Homo sapiens: one gene and its partners. The protein of the gene in region 1 interacts with the protein of each later gene in a pairwise test. Each region holds a gene or a part of one and is shown in the gene's direction. Other genes may lie near its edges.

What was found.
Region 2: the proteins of LMO4 (region 1) and KRT15 interact in binary tests that used the Homo sapiens proteins (3 or more experiments, as listed by UniProt).
Region 3: the proteins of LMO4 (region 1) and ARNT2 interact in binary tests that used the Homo sapiens proteins (3 or more experiments, as listed by UniProt).
Region 4: the proteins of LMO4 (region 1) and REDIC1 interact in binary tests that used the Homo sapiens proteins (3 or more experiments, as listed by UniProt).

What each region holds. Positions count from the first base shown.
Region 1 is NC_000001.11:87,345,857-87,349,455, forward strand, and holds the end of LMO4 (LIM domain transcription factor LMO4), read left to right. Parts: 3' UTR 1-3,067; downstream 3,068-3,599. UniProt on the Homo sapiens protein: Transcription cofactor. Plays a role in establishing motor neuron identity, in concert with MNX1, acting, at least in part, to disrupt LDB1-LHX3 complexes thereby negatively modulating interneuron genes in motor neurons.
Region 2 is NC_000017.11:41,513,208-41,515,908, reverse strand, and holds the end of KRT15 (keratin, type I cytoskeletal 15), read left to right. Parts: coding exon 1-24; intron 25-216; coding exon 217-437; intron 438-1,234; coding exon 1,235-1,260; intron 1,261-1,768; coding exon of another isoform or gene 1,769-1,788; coding exon 1,789-1,886; 3' UTR 1,887-2,164; downstream 2,165-2,701.
Region 3 is NC_000015.10:80,399,451-80,407,382, forward strand, and holds the start of ARNT2 (aryl hydrocarbon receptor nuclear translocator 2), read left to right. Parts: upstream 1-4,931; 5' UTR 4,932-5,065; coding exon 5,066-5,096; intron 5,097-7,932. UniProt on the Homo sapiens protein: Transcription factor that plays a role in the development of the hypothalamo-pituitary axis, postnatal brain growth, and visual and renal function. Specifically recognizes the xenobiotic response element (XRE).
Region 4 is NC_000012.12:39,678,137-39,685,191, forward strand, and holds part of REDIC1 (regulator of DNA class I crossover intermediates 1), read left to right. Parts: intron 1-4,474; coding exon 4,475-5,004; intron 5,005-5,278; coding exon 5,279-5,348; intron 5,349-5,984; exon of another isoform or gene 5,985-6,176; intron 6,177-6,730; coding exon 6,731-6,791; intron 6,792-7,055. UniProt on the Homo sapiens protein: Involved in recombination, probably acting by stabilizing recombination intermediates during meiotic crossover formation. Required for normal germline development and fertility.

The sequences.
Region 1 (3,599 bases):
TCTTTTGTGTTTATAAATACTTGAGTGTCCACTATTTTGTTTATTCTTTTTCTCAATAGCAAACAAAGCCTTGGGTATTGATGAAAAGTATGTATAAAAAAAAATACGGCACAACCATCCTGTTCTCTTATTGAGTTTATAGCTTTTGAAGGAAGTCACAATTTCTAAGTCATACCTGTACATATTTTGAAGCTCACTTAGTTGTAGGGACCCAGAGCTCTTTTTTTATGGTGATCTTTGATTGGTGAAGTAGCCATTTCCTGGTGACCCTTAGGCTCGTGTGGTTGGCTGTAAGGTGTTTATTTTGTTTTGCTCCTACACTTCTTTACTGACTGCGTTTCCGTATGTATTTTGGGGGAAGATTCTGACTTCATTTAGTCTTAGTCTTGAGATACTGAGTTGCTGGTTGCAGGCAGCAGAGTGTCCACCACAGTGCCTGCACTGCCCGCAGAGCTGCCCTCCGGAAAGCATGCAGTATAACAGCTAGTGCTGGAAGGAGGAAAACCAAATAGGCCTGGAGGCTGAGGTTGTACTGCCAGCTTCCTTAGATGTGAGCAAATTTCAACTACAACTTCCATCACAGGCTAATAAAACCAGGTGTGTGAACGCTACTATTTTAAATTTTCTTTTTTAAGATGGCATTTTATTTTGTTCCAGAAAAGCGCCTGATGTAGACCCTCCCTCTGAGAATAGCCGTGGAGCCATGTAGAGAGGTGTAGCTCAGCACATCTCAACTACCAGTCAGCTTCCCTTTGAGAACTTCTGTGCTCACTTCCTGTTTTCAGAGATTCCAGGGCAGGGGAAAAAAAAAATCAGTTGAACTTCAAACCTCCTAGAGGAGATTGTAAAGGCATAGAGTTGAGGTGAATAGTTTTGTTAGAACCTTATAAAAATAAAATGCAAGAAAATAATATGAAGAAATCACATATATATGTTTGAATTAGATGTCTGTTTGAATTAGATCCTTGGGGAATTTCTTCAAACTAGTTCTGGTTCTTATATTTGTTTTTTTTCCTTTAAGGAACTTTCTGAAGGAAGTTAGACTGCGATGGTAAAGGGGGAAATGGGTTAATGAGATTGCAGGCATTTTCTATATTCTTTTTGGCATAAGCACTTATGTCCCTGATATGTACAAATTCAAAGGAGGTGGTTAATAACTTTAGTAAATAATATATTGTCGCATTTAATGATGTGGAGGGCTAAGGTCATTACGGACTTTAAATAAACTATTATATGGCTGGTTCCTCAAGCACTGCTGCGTATTTAATAATGAGCTTCTAAAAGCATTTCTTAAGTTGCAGACCTATAAGATTACAAATGTCACTCATGTTAGTATAATCCACATGCAAGTGATGAAGCCTTCTCTTTGATGTGCTAAATTGGAGAAGGACTAATGGAGCTATGAATATACAATAGAACATATTTAAGTAGTAGTCTTGCTTTAGGTAAAACACTTTCTTGAAACCAGAGGCATTTCAAACAATAAAACCCGGCTCTAATGGGGATGCTCTGTGTGGATAGAAAGCTACTAAAAACACTCAGGTTTATTCTGATGTGAGCAGCGATTGTGTGCAGTTCCTCCCCCAATCTCAACATTGCTTAGGAAAAAAAAAAATCTATGAGTTTATTCCACCTTTCATCCATTGCATTTGTGATGTTATTAGTTAGCAAGATGGACACTGTTCTTTAGAAAGGACTTATTTAATATTAACCACGTCATAGAGCAAGATGGCCCCCAGTCCCTACAAGCAAGTGCAATTAAAAATAAAAGCAAATGTTACTGAGCCCTGCTGAACTCCTGATAAAAAAAATTATGTTTATGGTACATATAAATGTCTCAATCATGCAAATTGTCACTCTTGTTAATGAAACAATTTTGTAAAAAGATAGTCCTCTAAAAGGGTTTAATGTTTTTTACCTATCTAACTGTCTAATTAGATTTACACATCCCGCAAGGCAGGGGAGCCTGAAGCTTTTCCAAACCAAATCGTTTGCCACTAGAAACTATTTTCAGCTCTTCATGATTTATTAGGAAATAGTTTAACCCGGACTGTAGTGTCTTATAAAATACAAAACGAGAAAACTGACACACCAAAATGAAGTCTGTGAAATTGTCATCCTCTTAATATTACCTGTATTTAAATTCTTTCTTTTGCCCTTATTAACACTGATATTTGAAACAACTAATCATCTAAAAGGAAGCTCTTAAAGGGCTTTAAATGTCAATATAGTAAGATTCTAATGTGCACTACTATTTATATAAAATATTTCTTAGGGCCCATAAATCATATAATAAACAGTGAACCCAAGAGCTACATATGGAGTCTAGTGAAGAGTTCCCATGTAGCCTAACTAATTGTATTTAAATTGAGGAGATCCAAAAACCCCATCACCCTTCACCCCAAAGACCCCTTCACCCTTCACCAGGGAATTCTATCCTGGGTGCTGTCCCACCTATGACCCCTTCAAGAGGCCATTGGAAAAAGGCCATTTACAAGTTAATGTTACTTATAGCTTTGTTACTAAGACTCACCTATTGTTAGTGCAGCCAAGTCACAGAAGTGCTTATTGCAGTTAAATAGCAATTTGTTTCCATGAAACTGCAATTAAAGTATTACTGAGCAGCCATTTTAGATTGGCAGTGCTCTGAACGCATGTTAAACAGCCAGCTACTCCCACTTGCAGAGTCTGAGATCTGACTAGCAGCAAAGTGTAGCACATTCGCCGATGCTGGGTACCTAGTTAAAGAGGCATTTGTAGCCCTCTGCTCCCATCGTGAACATGCTGAGAGCAATGACAAGTCAGGGCTGATTTTTGGAAGGTGAACTTGCAACTTACCTCAAGTGAATACTGTTTTCAGTTGTGCAAGAAGTGCTTTATGCTAGTAGATATGTGCATGTTTCCTAGAGGGAATGTTTTCAAGTTCAGATTGATTCTGCTGAGAATGGACGGCAACTCGGAGGCCTCAAGCCAATAATGTACTACAGGCCCTGACATGTTACAGCTGTGTAAACAGGGCCATTCTATTTCCTAAATCACAACTAATAAAGCAGAGGATGAAAATCAATTGATTCTGTTATAAGTTCTTTGAATGACACTGGAAAGTTGTTTAATGACTCCCTGTTAGAATGGACAAGCCTGAGTAGAGTCACCAAAGTACCGATTTTAATTGTCTCTCTCCCCTCAGAACCAGGGCAGGACAGCCTTTCCTAGGAATTGACATCACCATCACCAGATCAAAACCTGCTGGGGAGAGGAAGGATCTGAACTGAGTTCTTCCCGTAGATCTGACATTCAGAATTTGTTGAGTGAGAAAGGTGAAGTGCAAAGGTTGCATTGAAAATGTGAAACATTGATGCAAGATCCTGAGAGAGAAAAGGATTTCAGAGGTGGTGTTTTAAAATGCAATTAGCACTGAATTCTAACCAGTTTGGAAACAATCATTAGCTCATGAGAACGGGAGGCATCTCACCTTCCTTCACTCTGGAACAACCCCCCATCTTGAACTAAAAGGTTAACATCCCCAACTTCTTCAAAAACAGTTTCTATATTTGTGTGCTTTCACCTGTTGTTTGAGCTGCAAGTTTTTTCTTAAGTTA
Region 2 (2,701 bases), on another chromosome or scaffold:
GAGCTGCAGTCCCAGCTCAGCATGGTACGGCCACTCGCGCCCCATCCCAGCCTCTCGGGTGGTAGAAGCTCCCACTCTTCCTGGCTATTTAAGCCTTGGAGTTCTCAAGCCCCCTCAAGAGGTGGTTCCCTGAACTCCATTCAGTGCCCCCTCCCTGCTTGCCCTCAGTGGCTTCCTTTCTAGCCTGATGTGTCTATGCATCTGTCACTCCCCCAGAAAGCTGGGCTGGAGAACTCACTGGCCGAGACAGAGTGCCGCTATGCCACGCAGCTGCAGCAGATCCAGGGGCTCATTGGTGGCCTGGAGGCCCAGCTGAGTGAGCTCCGATGCGAGATGGAGGCTCAGAACCAGGAGTACAAGATGCTGCTTGACATAAAGACACGGCTGGAGCAGGAGATCGCTACTTACCGCAGCCTGCTCGAGGGCCAGGATGCCAAGTAGGCGCCTGGGCACAGGGGAAGGAGTGATGAGGGCTGCTTGTGGCTAGGGTGCAGGGTCATCCTAAGGGAATGGCAGGGTGTCCCTAAGCAGCCTTGAGGGACTGTGAAAAGAGAACTGAGCAAGGAGGGAGGATCTGGACTCCTCACTCTGGTCCTTGGCTGTTACCTGGGACAGGTCACTTCCTCTCTCTGGATCCGTGTTTCTTCTGTAAATGATAGAGGCTGGGCTAGTGGTAGTTAAGATCTAGTGCTCATTCCATTCTCTGCATGAGATAGATGGGTATTCTTGTAGTTCAGAATCTTGACCAGCTCAGTGGCTCATGCCTGTAATCCCAGCACTTTGGGAGTCCAAGGCGGGTGGATCACTTGAGGTCAGGAGTTCGAGACCAGCATGGCCAATATGGTGAAACCCCGTCTCTACTAAAAATACAAAAATTAGCTGGGCGTGGTGGCGGGTGCCTGTAATCCCAGCTACTCGGGAGGCTGAGGCACAAGAATCACTTGAACCCGGGAGGCGGAGGTTTCAGTGGGCTGAGATCGTGCCACTGCACTCCAGCCTGGGCGACAGAGTGAGATTCCGTCTCAAAAAACAAAACAAAACAAAACAAAATCTGTCTACTTGGGGATAGCAGGCCTGGATGGGCTAGCAGGATGTCCCACCCCTAGAGGAGTCAGATGTGTGGGTGGTGGTGGTGTAGGGTCTGAAGAACACTGCATAGCTATCTACATGAGCTTCCCTTACGGACACTTGAGCTTGTGCCCTTTGCTTAAATCAGCTTCCCTCTTTCTTTCAGGATGGCTGGCATTGCCATCAGGGAAGGTAGGAAGGCTTTACTCTTCTGGTGTGGGGTGGGGAGGGGAGATGTTGAAGCCACCACCCCCTTCGGAATAGGGAGGAAGGAGAAAGAGCCCAAACATCCCATTAGGTGGGAACATTCCCATTCATTAGATGCCTCTTCCCCAGTGGGAACTTCTGTCAGCCCCAGGTGAGATTGCAGCTGGTGATTTATTGAGAAACTTCCAGGTTGAGTAGGCTTCATTCAGGGCATGTCTCTCCCCCAGGCCCCATCTTCATACACTTCCGCTAAGATGCCCACAATTCATCCCCCTTCATGTGCAGCTTGAAAAACCCTGACATTGTTGCTCCCTGCCGGGCATACCTGCCATTGCCACTGCCCATCTCTGTGATGAGGAATTCAACACCAGATCTCTGGCAGCTCTTGAGGGATTGGCCAGTGGCCATTCTCAGGGGTGCTGTCTAGTTTTCCCAGAGCCCCGCCAAGGTCCTGGCCACCGTGGCAGAGCGGGGAGGTTCCCCCACTCTAAAGCCTACTCCTTCTCTCTCTAGCCTCTTCAGGAGGTGGTGGTAGCAGCAGCAATTTCCACATCAATGTAGAAGAGTCAGTGGATGGACAGGTGGTTTCTTCCCACAAGAGAGAAATCTAAGTGTCTATTGCAGGAGAAACGTCCCTTGCCACTCCCCACTCTCATCAGGCCAAGTGGAGGACTGGCCAGAGGGCCTGCACATGCAAACTCCAGTCCCTGCCTTCAGAGAGCTGAAAAGGGTCCCTCGGTCTTTTATTTCAGGGCTTTGCATGCGCTCTATTCCCCCTCTGCCTCTCCCCACCTTCTTTGGAGCAAGGAGATGCAGCTGTATTGTGTAACAAGCTCATTTGTACAGTGTCTGTTCATGTAATAAAGAATTACTTTTCCTTTTGCAAATATCTCTTGGCAGTATGTCCAGTTTTTCTTGATGGGGTCCTGGTTGGCCTCTGATCTCTGAGGAGACCCAGGGTCCACATGGTGATATCTCCCCCCACTTTGGCCTCTTCCCTGCGTGGCCACAATTCTTTTGGGTACCCAGGGCACCAGTGGCTGGGACAAACATAGTGCTACTCAGGTAATTTGCTCTTCTGGGTCACCATGGGGTGACCAGGGAAGTGAGGGTGGGGAGGTTCCCTAAAAAGAGTTTGGTGTACCCAGCACAGAACTCAACACATCTAATAATTATGAATATTTACCAAGTGACTGATCGCGTTGATTGTCTTTGTTCGCCATCCCATGGCTGGCATGATGCCAGGCACGCTCACCCATGGGGCTCATTTAATCCTCACCACTGTAGGTGGTCAGGATTTATTATTCCCACCTTAGAGATGAGGTCACTGGAGGCAGAGAGAAGAATAACTTGCCCCGGGCCTTGTGGATGGATGATAAGTAGCAGGGCTGGGCCTGGGCCTGTGTCTGTAGGACTCCAAGACCAG
Region 3 (7,932 bases), on another chromosome or scaffold:
TCTTAGGTCCTTTCCCTTTCACTTCCAGCTCCCCTTCAAGGTGGTGTCTAGGTGGTCAAGGAGGGAGTGGTGGGAGAAAAGGGAGCCTTAGAGCCTTGCCCGCCTCCATTCTGAGGGGCTGGGATGGTCATTTGGCTGGTGAAAATTAAGGTATCTTTAGGAAGACTCACACTGAGAGCTGATATCTGTGGCCTTGGTTTGGGGCCTTGTTCATTCAATCTTGCCTACTATAGCCTTTTAGTCCTCACCCAGATATCTGTTAATTTAGACCCTCAATGCCTTCATGTCTCCTCACCTGTGGGACACCTAGCATACTTCACAGAGCCACGAGGAGCCAGGAGTGCCATATAAAGCCCAGCTTTGCAGCTACATCCTTCGATCCCTGCAGAACCACCCTGTGTGTTATCTTCCCCAAGACTCCCACATGGGTGGTGGCCAGAAACCCCTCTGCTTTTGGCTATTCCATCAGCTGCCTTGATATACCTTCCACGGAAACTAGAGCACCTGGGTCTGACTGCCTGTTTCCCCTCCCACCCTCCTTCCTTCCTTCTCTCCACTCTCCATGAAGGTAAAGCACGACAAGCTTCCCCTTCCTATCTCTGTGGGACAGAGACTTGCCATACTTTTCTTCTTCCCTCTGCAATACTATCACAATACATTTTAAAGTCTCTAAAGTGTATACAGCACACACATTACTTCCTTCAATGTCATCTTCACCAAAACTCAGCACAGTAGGTAACATCATCCCCATTTTCCAGGTGAGGAAAGTGAGACTTAGAGAAGTTTCATGAAGTGACAGAGCAAAAACCTACACCACACTTTCGCTTCAAAGGCTGGTGCTTATGCCTTTTTGTATAAAACTAACATCTCATCCACATTTGATCTGTTATAAGTCCATGATTCTTGGTGTAAAGGAGAGACTTGATAGAGAAGAAGGCAGGGGTGGGGGCTGGGGGTAGTGCCTGGACAGACAATCCGTGGGCAGTTGTCACCTGTGTAGAAATAAAGATAAGGAGGTAGCAGTGGGGATAACACAGACCCATGAGCCTTTATCTCCAGCAAAGAGAGAGAGAGAAGTTAGAAAGAATGGAGGAGGAAGGAAGGGTTGAGAGGAGACATATAAATGGAGAGAAAGCCTGTGGTTATATCCATGGCAGCCCTACCATGCCTCTCCTTCTGCAGAAGCCCATGCGTTCATTCCTGGTTTCTTCATATCTTAAAGTGAAGTTAAAAGAACATAAAATTAGCCAGGCATGGTGGCTCACGCCTGTAATCCCAGCATTTTGGGAGGCCGAGGTGGGCGGATCACGAGGTCAGAAGATCAAGACCATCCTGGCCAACATGGTGAAATCCCATCTCTACTAAAAATACAAAAATTAGCTGGGAGTGTTTGGTGGGGGGTGCACCTGTAATCCCAGCTACTTGGGAGGCTGAGGCAGGAGAATTGGTTGAACCAGGGAGTTGGAGGTTGCAGTGAGCTGAGATCACTCCATTGCACTCTAGCCTGGTGACAAAGCGAGACTCCATCTAAAAAAAAAAAAACAAAACAAAAAACAAAAACAAATAAACAAAAAACCGGGTGCAGTGGCTCACGCCTGTAATCCCAGCACTTTGGGAGGCCAAGGCAGATGGATCACCTGAGGTCAGGAGTTTGAGACCAGCCTGACCAACATGGAGAAACCCCGTCTCTACTAAAAATACAAAATTAGCTGGATATGGTGGTGCATGTCTGTAATCCAGCTACTCAGGAGGCTGAGGAAGGAGAATTGCTTGAACCTGGGAGGCAGAGGTTGTGGGGAGCCAGGATTGCACCATTGCACTCCAGCCTGGGCAACAAGAGTGAAACTCCGTCTCAAAAAAAAAAAAAAGATAAAATTGCCTTGGATCATTATATATTATACAATGGAAATCCTTTGTCTCGAGTATTAGGACTTAAAGGGATATGAAGCAGAACTCAGGTGGCTGCTTTCTCCCATCAAGTTAAAAAAAAAAAAAAAGAAGAAAGAAAGAAAGGCTGTGGACCCTGGTACACATTAGCACAGCAGCTGGTCAACTCTGGTCATTTCTAGGAGCGCTGTGCTCAGAATCGTGTGCTATGGGCCCGGTGGATCTGCATTAATCTTTTCAAAAATGCAAATCTCAGCTTCAAATTCAACAGCCTCCTCTGGAATTTCAAAGAGTTCTGGGTTGTTTAAAGGTTGAGTGGAATTCCTGAGCCTGTGTTAACTGGTCACAGTCTACTGACTCTCATAATTAGCGCAAGACCACTGTGTTGTGTAAATGCCACTCAGTATTCAACAATGACTAACCACTCCATTTCAGATTGTTTACTTAAGTGGGGGGCTTTCATCCACAATCAGTGTTTCTGAGCATTTAACCTATTTAATACTGAGAGACGAGAGAGAAGGCGAGTTGCCCATTTCTCTATTTCTTCCCCTACACCCTAACCGCTCCCCAACTCCAGCCACCAAATCCCAGTATTGTGCGTAGCCCAGTTCTAAGTCTTGTCTGGCTATTAAGCTGCATGACGTTGGCTACCCTGAGCCTCAGTTTCCTTATCTGCAAACTCCAGGGGCAGAATTGGATGATGTCGAAGGTCCTTTCTACCTCTGAAATACACTGACTGGGGGAGAAGATGAAATGTCTCCTTTGTGAAAATCTAAACGTATTTATTACGTACCAAAAACCACAGCACGGCCGACTCCAGACTTGGGAAGTGTCTAGCAGTTGTCCACGTGTCGCCTGTCTTTTATTGCAATGGACCAGTGCAAGAAGTAGGAAGCTTGAGCAAGATCCAGTTTTAAAGATATCAGCCGAGTAACATTTAGAAAAATGGGCAGAACACAACAGCAGAGTAAGAAAGTAAAACTTGTCAACAAATTTGTATGGTTAAATGTGTGTGTGCGTAAGAGTCATGTTCACTCATATTTTATTTTTTAGGGATGATATTAGAACTGTATTTGGAGACAAAATGAGCCATGGGTCCTGGCTGAAATGCTAAACTGATACATAAACACCAAGGAGAGGAACTTGCTTCCTTCTAAGGGGTGTGGAAAGTTGGAGAATAAAAGAGCCTCGTGGGATAGGGGGCAGTGATGCCAAGTGCTATTTATGGGCTATTTATGGGCCACCAGAGATTGAACTGCCTGTGGGGAGAAGGATCCAGAAGGGACTCTGGGTAGCAGAAATATCTGAGATGGAGTTTTACCTTTTTTGATGTGGAGTGAGTGAAGAGAGCCTCCTCTTTTACTTTCCTTAAGAAATCTTCAGTCCAGTATACGTTATACATTAATTAAGTTGGTATTTTGAGTGTGTTGCTTTTCGGGGTATGTAGAAGAGAGGCTGAATTCTCATTTGGCTTGATGTTGGAATCAGGAACAGTCAACTTTGATACGGGGCACAAGAGCGGGCCATAGCTGATACCCTGGTTTCTCTGTCTGGGCCTGGCCTATCTTGTGGCTGGGTGCACACCTGCTTTATTTTTTACTTGAAATGTCTTCTTTTTCCACCTGTCCTACTCATGTCTTCAAAGCCTAATTTTCATTTTCCCTGATCACTCCACCTCCTCTCTGCCCTCATTCATTCATTAGTGACTACAGGCTGGAGATGCCAATTTCAGGGCTTCTGCCCTAAGCCCCCAAGGGAGCTGTGTGCTTCTTGAGTGCAGATACTTTGTTTCACTCTTCCCCACTCTACCCCCCAAACCAGAAGAACAGAGCTCCTGTTTCTTCCTTTCCATGGTAGGCCCAACACCTGGCTTTGTGCCTGGCACACAGCAGACATTCAACATTTGTAGAACTGATAGACTATTAGATTAGTAGTGACAAATACTCCCCGAAGAAAATGCTTATTTGAACATACATCCCAAATTTTCTGCCCTCCAGAAAATGCTTCCTTGGAAGGATTTAAGACAGTTTGATGTCTCTGCAAACATTATCTGCGTTTAGGGACCAACTTGCCCTTCTCAGCGTTCACCTGGGATGTCTTTATTCTTCCATTTAACCTTTACAGGGGACCCCGATGGTGACGTGTCCTTCCTAGGGGCCATTACCTCTCTCAGGGATCCTAGTGTCTGGTAGAAAACAACAGCTCCAAGTTCTCTGCATCCAAACTTCGCCAGGATACGCAGATAAACCTATTTAAAAAAAAAAATCTTTTTAAATTCTCAACTTGGTGGTGTAAATAAGGCCCTTGCAGCGCCCTCAAGTAATAATCAACGGCAGTCATTATGGAAGGAGGGTAGAGATGAGCGCCTTACTCAAAGCCAAGACATTCACAATTTCTCGGGCCGGCTGCCTGTGCCTGGGCGTGTGCACTGTGCACTCCGAAGCTGTGTGCGGCGGTGGCCTTGGAGGTGCGCGTGGCCTTAGGAATTCCCGCGGTCGGGCACCCTCCGCTTAACACCGGGCCGTGTCCCCGGCCTGGGAGCCGAGCAGCGCGGCTCTGGCATGCTAAGTGGGCAGCACTGGGGCGCCTTTGTTCCTCGCGGCCGTCTCCCAGGACCGGCTTCCCTCTGAATCTAAATGGGCTTCTCCCTCACCCGCTCCGCCCTGGCCTCCTGGCCTGGGCACGGCGCCCCTGGGTAAAGCGCGCCCGGACACCTGGGGCGTGGGCGTGCGGGGGCAGCCCGGGCTAGGCGAGCGCGGGAGAGGCGCCTGCGGTCCCAGCCCGGCCAGGCCCGAGCACCTGCGCGAGCCCGAGGGAGCGCCCGGCCCTCTGCCCCCGCCAGTCGCCGGCGCCCAACTTGGGGGTCCCGCCGTCCGCAGCCCCAAGTCTCGCGGTGCTACCGCTCTGACCGGGGAGCCGCGGGCCGGGCGCCCCCCGCCGCGCGACAAAGGCTGAACCGGGAGGAGGAGGCCGAGGAGGGGGAGGAGGAGGAGAGAAAGGCGGGGACGGCGAGCGGCCGCGGCGGCGGGGAGAGCGGAGGGAGCGCCGCCCGCCCGCGCCGTCCTTTGTGTGGCGGCGGCGGCGCCTGGGCCTGACCGGGTCCCCGGGGCTGAGCGCCGGGCTCCGCGCCGCCCCTCCCGCGCCCCTGCCAAGCGGGCGCCTATCCTCTCCGAGCAAGATGGCAACCCCGGCGGCGGTCAACCCTCCGGGTGAGTAGCGGCCTGGGCCCCGCCGCCCGCCGCAGCCCGCAGGCCTTGCCCGGGGCCGGAGCGGACCAGGCGCGCCGGGCGCCCCCGGGGGCGCGGAGCCGCAGCTCGGCGCGGTGGGTGGTGGAGCGGCTGTCACTACGCGGCAGCCGCAGCATCAGCACCAGAGCGGCATCTGCATCCCAATCGCTGCCCATCCGGTCCCGGGCAGGCGCCGGTCCGGACCCGCGGGCGGCCGGACGCTGGCCTCGCATCCTCGGGAACCCGAAGGGCAGGCCCGGGAGCCCCCGAAGTTCTGAAAATAACCGCCTTTGCCTTCCCCATCCCACGCATTTTTCTCTTCCGGTCCCGGCTTTTGTGGCATCACGGCGTCAGCCAGTCCTGGCTGGTGGAGGGCTCCGCGCTGACGGAGGGAAAAGTTTGGAGCTGGGATTCAACAGGGTACAACTCCCGGGACTCTCCCCTGCCCGCCCCGCCCACTAAGCGCTGGTCCTTTGCGCCCTTTGCGACTGGCTGCTGTGTGTCCTAACCCTCCGGGGGCACAAAACACCCAGCCTGTGGTCACCAGCGTGGAGCAGCCCTGGTCCTGCCCAGGTGACATCCTCTGCTTTCTGGTCTGACCTGTCCCCAGGGTGCAGTCTGTGACAACTGAGCTCATTAGGAAATATTTCAAAAATGGAAGAGTTCTTGATCAAGTGGCAACATTGACTTGTTTTGGTATTGTAGTAGGGAAGTTCCGTTTTCACTGGGAAAGTTCCCTACCTGATGAGCAGGGTGTGGGAGAAGAGAAACGTGAACATCTAAGCTAGTACAAACTTTTGGGTGTTGTGCAGAGGCTGCTGTGGGCACGGCAGGTTGCTGGGTCCCTGTGGAAGATGCAGGGAGAGTCACAGAGGGCGGCCCCCAGGAAATTCCCAGCAGAGGGAGGTCATGTGTTGGAGATAGGGAGGGTCGGGGGAGGAACAGCAATGCCTAGCAAAGAAAAGTGTCTCTCATCATAGAATTAGGAATGAAAGATCCCTTTCATCTAAGGCGGCCAGGGAAGGCTTCTGGAGATTGGACATTTCGGCTGAACCTTGAAAACGGGAATGTTTGAATATACAGAGCCAGTAGCAGAGGGGCATTGCAGGCGTAAGTAACAGTGGACTTGCTCTAAGCAAGTGCAGAGGTCAGTGAGTAGTTGGTGCACTGGGGATATAAGAGGCAGCAGTGGGATTTAACACTGAGTTGTTTGGATGTGACCAGGCTTTAAAGGACAGACTGAGGAGTATGGACTTTCTCTCTCCACATTAAGGGAGAGTCCTCTGCACACTTCCTAAGAACCAGAAAAATAAAATAAAATAGAAAAGAGAGAGAGAGACAGAGAGAGAGAGAGAGAGACCTCAATGGTATTGAACAAGGAAATCGCATGATCACTTTTTCTGGAAGACTGATTTGTCAGCTATGTCTAGGAAACATTCTAAGGAGGGAACAAGACTTGAGACAGGGAGGCCAGCATGAAATGAGGCAGGTGCTGGGGAGGCCAGAATTGGTGGCCATGGCTGGACCAGAGAGGAAGGAATGCACCACTGGGCGGGTAGAAGAGTTCCAGATTTGGCACTGATTAGATTTGGAGTAAGAGTAAAGGAGGAGGCCAAGGAGAGACAAAGGGGAGGTGTCCATGGAGACACCAAGGTGAAGAGCCTGTGTAATTCCAAGGAAGGCAGTTCCATCAGCAGAAATAGGGACTCTTGGAAGAACAGACAAGGAGGCCTCTGTCCAGAACACTGAGGAGGAACGTGGCTGGTCTGAAAACAAATCTGTGCCAGTTTGCCTGTGACTGAAGCTGCAATTTCAACCCATTCAACTACTTCAAAATCAATGGAAAATTGATAGATGTAAATGTTATGAAATTAGAAAAAGCAAAAGATGTTAAATGAAAACATTTTAGTCCAATATACACTGGGAACAGGAATAAAATCCCTGGTGATTTACATAATTTCTATGCCAGGACATCATTGTTTAAAACTTTTTTGTCCATTACATTGCTCCATGAGCTACATGGACTAAAGATCTAAAGATGGAGTAACTGCCCCTGGCCCCGTGGTGTGAAGCACAGGAAAGCCTGTGCCTGTGCCTTGGACTGCGGGAGACTTGAATGGTACAAGCATAGGGTATTGTTGGCGTTGCTAGTCAACACCTGGCCAGCTTGACAGATGCTTTTCTCTGTTGACAGCTATACCAGAGATCTTCAGCATGGTGATAATTTCTCAAGGGAAAATTCCTTGAGGTGATCACCTTTCCTTTTACCATCATTTCTTTTACTGGTCCCCTGAGGATGATCCGTGGGGATGTGTTATTATTGCCCCATGTGAATCTCCATCTTTTTCTTTGGGAGAAAGGGTTTAATTTTAAGGGACATGGCTCAGGGTTTGAGCCAAAGAGAGAGAGTTCAGATTCTATGGGCAATTTACAACAAAAAGAGCCATGGTACCCAAGCTTGTCACCCAGAGCCTACCTCACATGGGCTTGTGAGACTTCTTTGAATTCCTTTTTCTTCCTGCCTCCTTTCCCCAGATATGGTTGCTTTGCAAAGAATAAGAGCTTGGTAAACAGAACCAAATGGATGGGGAAGCACCAGGATTTATTTCTGCTGCTAGTTCGTGTCCAGGGTACAAAGGCCACAGCCAGTCACCTCCCCACGCCCCCACTTGTTCCTTTTTTCCCAGCTGACCACTTCACAACAGCAGAACCATTTACAATGACACTCTTCTGTGATGTGTAGTGGGGATTCTCTAGGGTCTTGTTGGTGACCGGTGATGTTGGGGTCTTCACGCTCATGTTACTCATGTTACTCTGT
Region 4 (7,055 bases), on another chromosome or scaffold:
AAAGATAAATGAAATGAAAAGCTGGTTCTTTGAAAAGATAAAATTGATGGACCATTAGCAAGATTAACAAAGAATAGAGAAGACCCAAATAAGCTCAATTAGAAACAAAATGGGAGATATTATAACTGATACTACAGAAATACAAACAATTATTCAAGGCTACTGTGAACACCTTTACACATACAAATTAGAAAATCTACAGGAGATTGATAAATTCCTAGAAATATACAACCCTCCTAGATCAAACCAGGAAGAAATAGAAACTCTGAACAGACCAATGACAAGTAGTGAGATTGAAACAGCATTTTTAAAACTTGCCAACAAAAAAAAAGTCCGGGACCAGATGGATTCACGCTGAATTTTATCAGCCATTCAAAGAAGAATTGGTACCAATCCTACTGAAAATTATTCCAAAAGATAAAGAGAGAATCCTCCCTAAATCATTCTGTGAAGCCAGTATCACCCTAATACCAAAACCAGGAAAAGGCATAACAAAAAAAAAAAAAAAAAAAAGGAAACTATAGACCAATATTCCTGATGAATATAGATGCAAAAATCCTCAACAAAATACTAGCTAACTGAATCCAACAGCATATCCAAAAGATAATACATCATGATCAAGTGAGTTTCATACCAGGGATGCAGGGATGGTTTAACACACATAAGTCAATAAATATCATACACTACATAAACAGAATTAAGAATAAGAATTATATGATCATTTCAATAGATGCAGAAAAAGCATTTTACAAAATCTAGTATCACTTTATGATTAAAACCCTCAGCAAAATCAGCATAAAAGGGACATACCTTAAGATAATAAAAGCCATCTATGACACACCCACAGCCAGCATTATACTGAATGGGGGAAAGTTGAAAGCATTCCCCCCAAGAACTGGAACAAGACAAGGATGCCCACTTTCACCACTTCTATTCAACATAGTACTGGAAGTCCTAGCCAGAACAGTCAGACAAGAGTTCACCACTTCTATTGTACGTAGTACTGGAAGTCCTAGCCAGAGCAATCAGACAAGAGAAGGAAATAAAGGGCATCCAAATAGATAAAGAGGAACTCAAACTGTTGCTGTTCACCAATGACATAATAGTATACCTGGAAAACCCTAAGGACTTATCCAAAAAGCTCCTAGATCTGATAAATGGACTCAGTAAAGTTTCAGGGTACAAAATCAATGTACACAATGCAGTAGAACTGCTATACATCAACACTGAATAAGCTGAGAATCAAATCAAGAACTCAACCCCTTTTACAACAGCTGCAAAAAATAAAATACACCTAACCAAGGAGGTGAAAGATATCTACAAGAAAAACTAGAAACACTTCTTAAAGAAATCATAGATGACACAAACAAATGGAAACACATCCTATGATCATGGATGTGTAGAATTAATACTGTAAAAATGACCATACTGCCAAAAGCAATCTATAAATGCAATGCAATTCCCATCAAAATACCAATATCATTCTTCACAGAACTAGAAAAAATATCCTAAAACTCATATGCACCCCAAAAACCCCACAGAGCCAAAGGAAGACTAAGCAAAAAGAACAAATCTGGAGGCATCACATTACCTGACTTCAAACTATACTACAGGGCTATGGTTACCAAAACAGCATGGCACTGGTATAAATATAGGTATGTGGACAGATGGAGCAGAATAGAGAACCCAGAAATAAAGCCAAATACTTAAAGTCAACTGATCTTCGACAAAGCAAACCAAAACATAAAGTGGGGAAAGAATACCCTATTCAACAAATGGTGCTGGGATAGTTGGCAAGCCACATGTAGTATGAAACTGGATCCTCATCTCTCACCTTATATAAAAATCAAGTCAAGATTGATAAAAAACTTTAAGACATGAAGCCATAAAAATTCTAGAAGATAACATCGGAAAAACTCTTCTAGACATTGGCTTAGGCGAAGAATTCATGACCAAGAACCAAAAGCAAATGCAACAAAAACAAAAATAAACAAATGGAACCTAATTAAAATAAAAATCTGCACAGCAAAAGAAATAATCAGCAAAGTAAACAGACAACCCAGAAAGTGGGAGAAAATCTTCCCAAACTATGCATCTGACAAAGGACTAACATCCAGAATCTACAAGGAACTCAAATCAGTAAGAAAAAAACAAGTAATCCCATCAAAAAATGGGCTAAGTATGTGAATAGACAATTTGCAAAAGAAGATAATACAAGTGGTCAACAGATATGAAAAAATGCTCAACATCACTAAAGATGGAGGAAATGCAAATCAAAACCACAATGCAATCACCACCTTACTCCTACAAGAATGGTCATAATTAAAAAATGAAAAAATAATAGATGTTGGCATGGATGTGGTGAAAAGGGAATACTTTTACACTGCTGGTGGGTATGTAAACTAGTACAACCACTATGGAAAACAGTATGGAGACTCCTTAAAGAACTAAAAGTGAACTACCATTTGATCCAGCAATCCCACTGCTGGGTTTCTACCCAGAGGAAAATCAGTCAGTATATGAAAAAGACACTTGCATGTGCATGTTTATAGCAACACAATTCACAACTACAAAAATATGGAACCAGCCTAAATGCCTATCAACCAATGAGTGGGTGAAGAAAATACATACGCACACACACACACACACACTCTCTCACACACTCACACTCCATGGAATTCTACTCAGCCATAAAAAGGAATGAAATTATGGCATTCACAGCAACCTAGATGGAGTTGGAAACTATTATTCTAACTGAAGTAACTCAGGAATGGAAAACCAAACATTGTTACGTTCTTACTTATAAGTGGGAACTAAGCTTTGAGGACACAAAGGCATAAGATTGATATAATGGACCGGGTGTGGTGGCCTACACCTATAATCCCAGCACTTTGGGATGCTGAAGCAGGTGGATCACCTGAAGTCAGGAGTTTGAGACCACCCTGGCCAACATGGTGAAACCCTGTCTCTACTAAAAACACAAAAGTCAGCCGGGTGTGGTGGCACACACCTGTAATCCCAGCTATTCAGGAGCCTGAGGCAGGAGAATTGCCTGAACCCAGGAAGCAGAGGTTGCAGTGGGCCAAGATTGCACTACTGCACTCCAGCCTGAATGAAAAGAGCAAAACTCCATCTCCCACACACACAAAAAAGATTGATATAATGGATTCTGGGGACTCTGGTGGAGGGTGGAGGAGGGATGAGGGATAAAAGACTATACATTGGGTACAGTGTACACTGCTTGGGTAATGGCTGCACCAAAATCTCAGTAACCACCACTAAAGAACTTGTTCATGTAACCAAACATCACCCATTTCCCAAAAACTATTGAAAGAATAATAAAAAAAGATTTACATTTATAGTGTGCTTAATATCTTATAAAGTGCATTTACCTCTATTTTATGTAGAGTAACAGATATTTTCCTCATGTTAATGGTGTATATTAGTGCATACTATATACTGTGTCTTTTGGTATAGCAAAATAACATCATTCTGTCTAAAACACCAATAAGGCCCTCATTGAGAAACAACGTAGGATCATGAGCTGTGAACATTCATGGGTAAAACATTAATCTCTCTCTTTAACAACAAGCTGAGCTCTTTTATCTCTCTATTGCCAATATATGGCCTAGTACCTGGAACAGAGTAGGTGATCATCAAATATTTGATAAATAATTTAAAAATAGTTATTAGAGTTTTAGCAATCTGTGGTTTTTTTTCCTAATTTTTTTGATAACTCCAACCTCTGGAACAACTCACTTCCAAATAAATTTGTAGTCACTGACAATAAAATAAGAAACATCTTGATTTGTAATTATTTTCCACTATATCTTTGATTCTTGTGCACAAATTGGACTTAACCTAGAATTATTTCTGCATTAGAATAGAACTTACAAGTTATCTAACTCATCTAATTAGTTTTTATCTAATTCACCTTATCTCTTGGTTTTATTATGTATATACACATTTGTATTTATATTGCTCTTCCTTGGGAACTTTATAATTGTTTTTATATCCATATTAGGTTGAAAAATATGTTATAATGGTCTCATAACTATTTGATTTTATGTTTTAACACTGGTGATAAATTTTCTCTGCACAGCCTTCAAAACATCTTTCTCTGGTTAAATGGAACAGCAATGACATATAGTGGTTGTCTAGTTTATTCTTTAGATTTTATTATAGAAAATATACTATAGGTTGGTCATGTTTTAATTAAACCTCATGCTAACATTTCATGTTGTAATAAAAAACTGGCCGTAGATTATTTTCTTACTCAATAAGTCATTAGAAGACCACATTAGACAAATTTTCACCCAAAGCAATATTATTTATTTAAATATAAAAAATAAAAACATAGTCTAGGTAAATGTTAGTAGCAACTCAATATGTCCTCTAAGAATTGAAAGTAAGAGTTTCTAAATGCAAATAATCCATGCTTTTCTTGCTAAATATGTTTTTGTTTATCCCAAAGTCTAGGAAATAGGAATTTACTTACTAAAAGCCCTGCTGTAATTATGGATGAAGATTGTAGAAGCACGGATGAAATAAGACAGTCAGACTACATTACTGAAAAACACTCAATACAGCATATTTGGGGGAAAAATGGAAAGGAAGTTTCAAATTTTCTTGAAGATGTGAACCAGTCTACTCCTAACCTTCTATCAGAGAATTGTGACTCTTTTGTTAGTCAAAATATGATCAATGTATTAAACATAGATGAGCAAAGGATAAAGAAAACATTTAACAAGTGTGATTATGATAGTATGGGAGATACTTGTGTAGTCACTAGTTCTGATAAAAACCATGTCACTGACAGATGCATTAGAAACATTTTTACAGTTCCAGAGTTGACTTTTAGTAATTCGACTTTGAATAAAACAAGTTATCCAGAAAAATGTCAGCCAAACAAGAAGTATCAGAGAGAGTATAACAAAAATGAAAGAAATGATCTTAGTACATCTTTTGAGAACGATTACTACCCAAGCAGCTCTGAAAGAAAAGGTTGGTATTGTACATGGAAAATGTAATTACATATTCTTTTTTTCTTTCAGTTTTAGTATATATATTTGTATATTCATACACACACATCTATATATTTGTATGTGTGTTTATGTGTTTGGAGGAAAATGAAACCAAAAATAGAATGGCTTCCTATTATATAACATTGTGGACCAGTGGTTTTCCTCTGTACGTGTCATGTGAATATGCTTTGAATTAAAAAATGAAAATAGACTATGCTAAATTTTTAACTCGGTGCATACTTTTATTTTTTAAGAAAAATTTGAAAATGATTACCAAGAGAAGACACCACAGAAAAGTATTCAGAAATATCCAGCAAACTCTATGTAAGTTTTTAGGTAAATCTGGGGAATACAAATCAGGATCTAGTATGATGCATGATGAATGTTGAATTGATGCAAAGTGAGGTAGGCGTATTGCCATTTGAGGGTGGGCAGGCAACCTGGTCTCAAAGGAGCCTTACCAGGAGTCACAGTGTTGATAATATCACCCCAGTTGAGAGTGTGGTGCTCATATTTGCCAGCTCCCAAATACCTTCTTATCTGAATATTAGTGTTGATTAGATTTGAGGAAATTGATTTAATGTGTTCAAGAAACTCATATCCGCCAGAATGTCAATTTATTAACTTAAAGTAATAAATAGAAAGGGAACATGTATAGGAAGTCTTATTGACATGAAAAAGCATATTTTCTTACTTTCAAACAGCTCTCAGTGGGAAGGTTGCTTGCTTGGTTGGTATAGAATCACTATAGGGAGTGATAGAATTCAGATGTTAGTGGCATAAGCAAGCATATCAGCAGTTTATAGGACAGTGTACATTTTAGGGATAGAGCACTCTTCTCATTGCCAACATTTACCTCTCAGAGACTCCATGTTTTCTCTATGTTCAAGATTACAATCTCCTCTACCCATACATTGAAAACAATTATGTTTCACCAGATTTTTCTTTCTCTTCTTGCAGCTGGTGTACAAAATGTTCTGAGTTTAAGGTGATTTTTACACTCATCCATTATGTGTTGATGTTAAATTTATTCCTTAAAAGTTTGAGAACTGCCTTCCAGGCTTTTCTGAATAATGACCTGCAATTATAAGTAACTAAAGAAAACTTTATTTTAGCTAGTAGTTTCTAGCTAAAATAGTCCTAACTTTCTTGGTAATAGTCCTAACTTTCTTGGTAATAATTACAATTTAGCCAAATCTTTCTGGTTGGAAATCATGAACTAGAATAAATTTTTATTCTGGAAGTGATTTCTTGTGGAATTATTAAAAATATTGATTGATAAAAAGATGCAATTTTAGTGGGATTGGCACTACAAATTAATTAAAACATAGACTTACAAAACATTTCATAAAATTGGCAAATTTGTATTTTTGTTGTTATATCTCCCAATATCTAGAAATTTATGAGTGAAAAAATCATGTTAGGCCTTGAGTTTTAAATGTACCTTATGAAAGCAATTTAGAACATGGTTCCCAATCCTGACTGCAGGTCCAGATTACTTGAGGTAGTGATTTTAAACTATAGAATACCAAGATTGACCCGCACATAATAGGTGGGCTCCTTGGCATGGAGCTTATGAATCTTTATTTTTAAGAAAGCTTCCCATATAATTCTGATCTGAAGCCAAGTTTGGGAACTCTAATTTAGAACAATAATTCCCAGAGGGAACACAACAAACTTTGATACTGTGTATTTATAATCCTTAGGGGAAATATACCTTCGGAAGAATTGCACTCTAAGCAGTCATGGGACTTTGGACTTGATGAGGTAAAGCACAGTCTCACATTATCTTCTCAATTAAGTCAGTTTGTATTACCATATCACATTACTGTATTTAACGTTCACTTTGATTTAAGCTTAACATTTATTCATTAATTTTTATTGGATGGACTCTTTTTCTTATACTTTTTTATTCTGAGGAAATTATAGCTTAGATCTAGAAATAAAAACACGTTTTCAGAGACTGTTAACATGTTTTATTTGAGACAAAATCTTGAGGACATTTTAAACACATTTTTTAAGTATTACAAA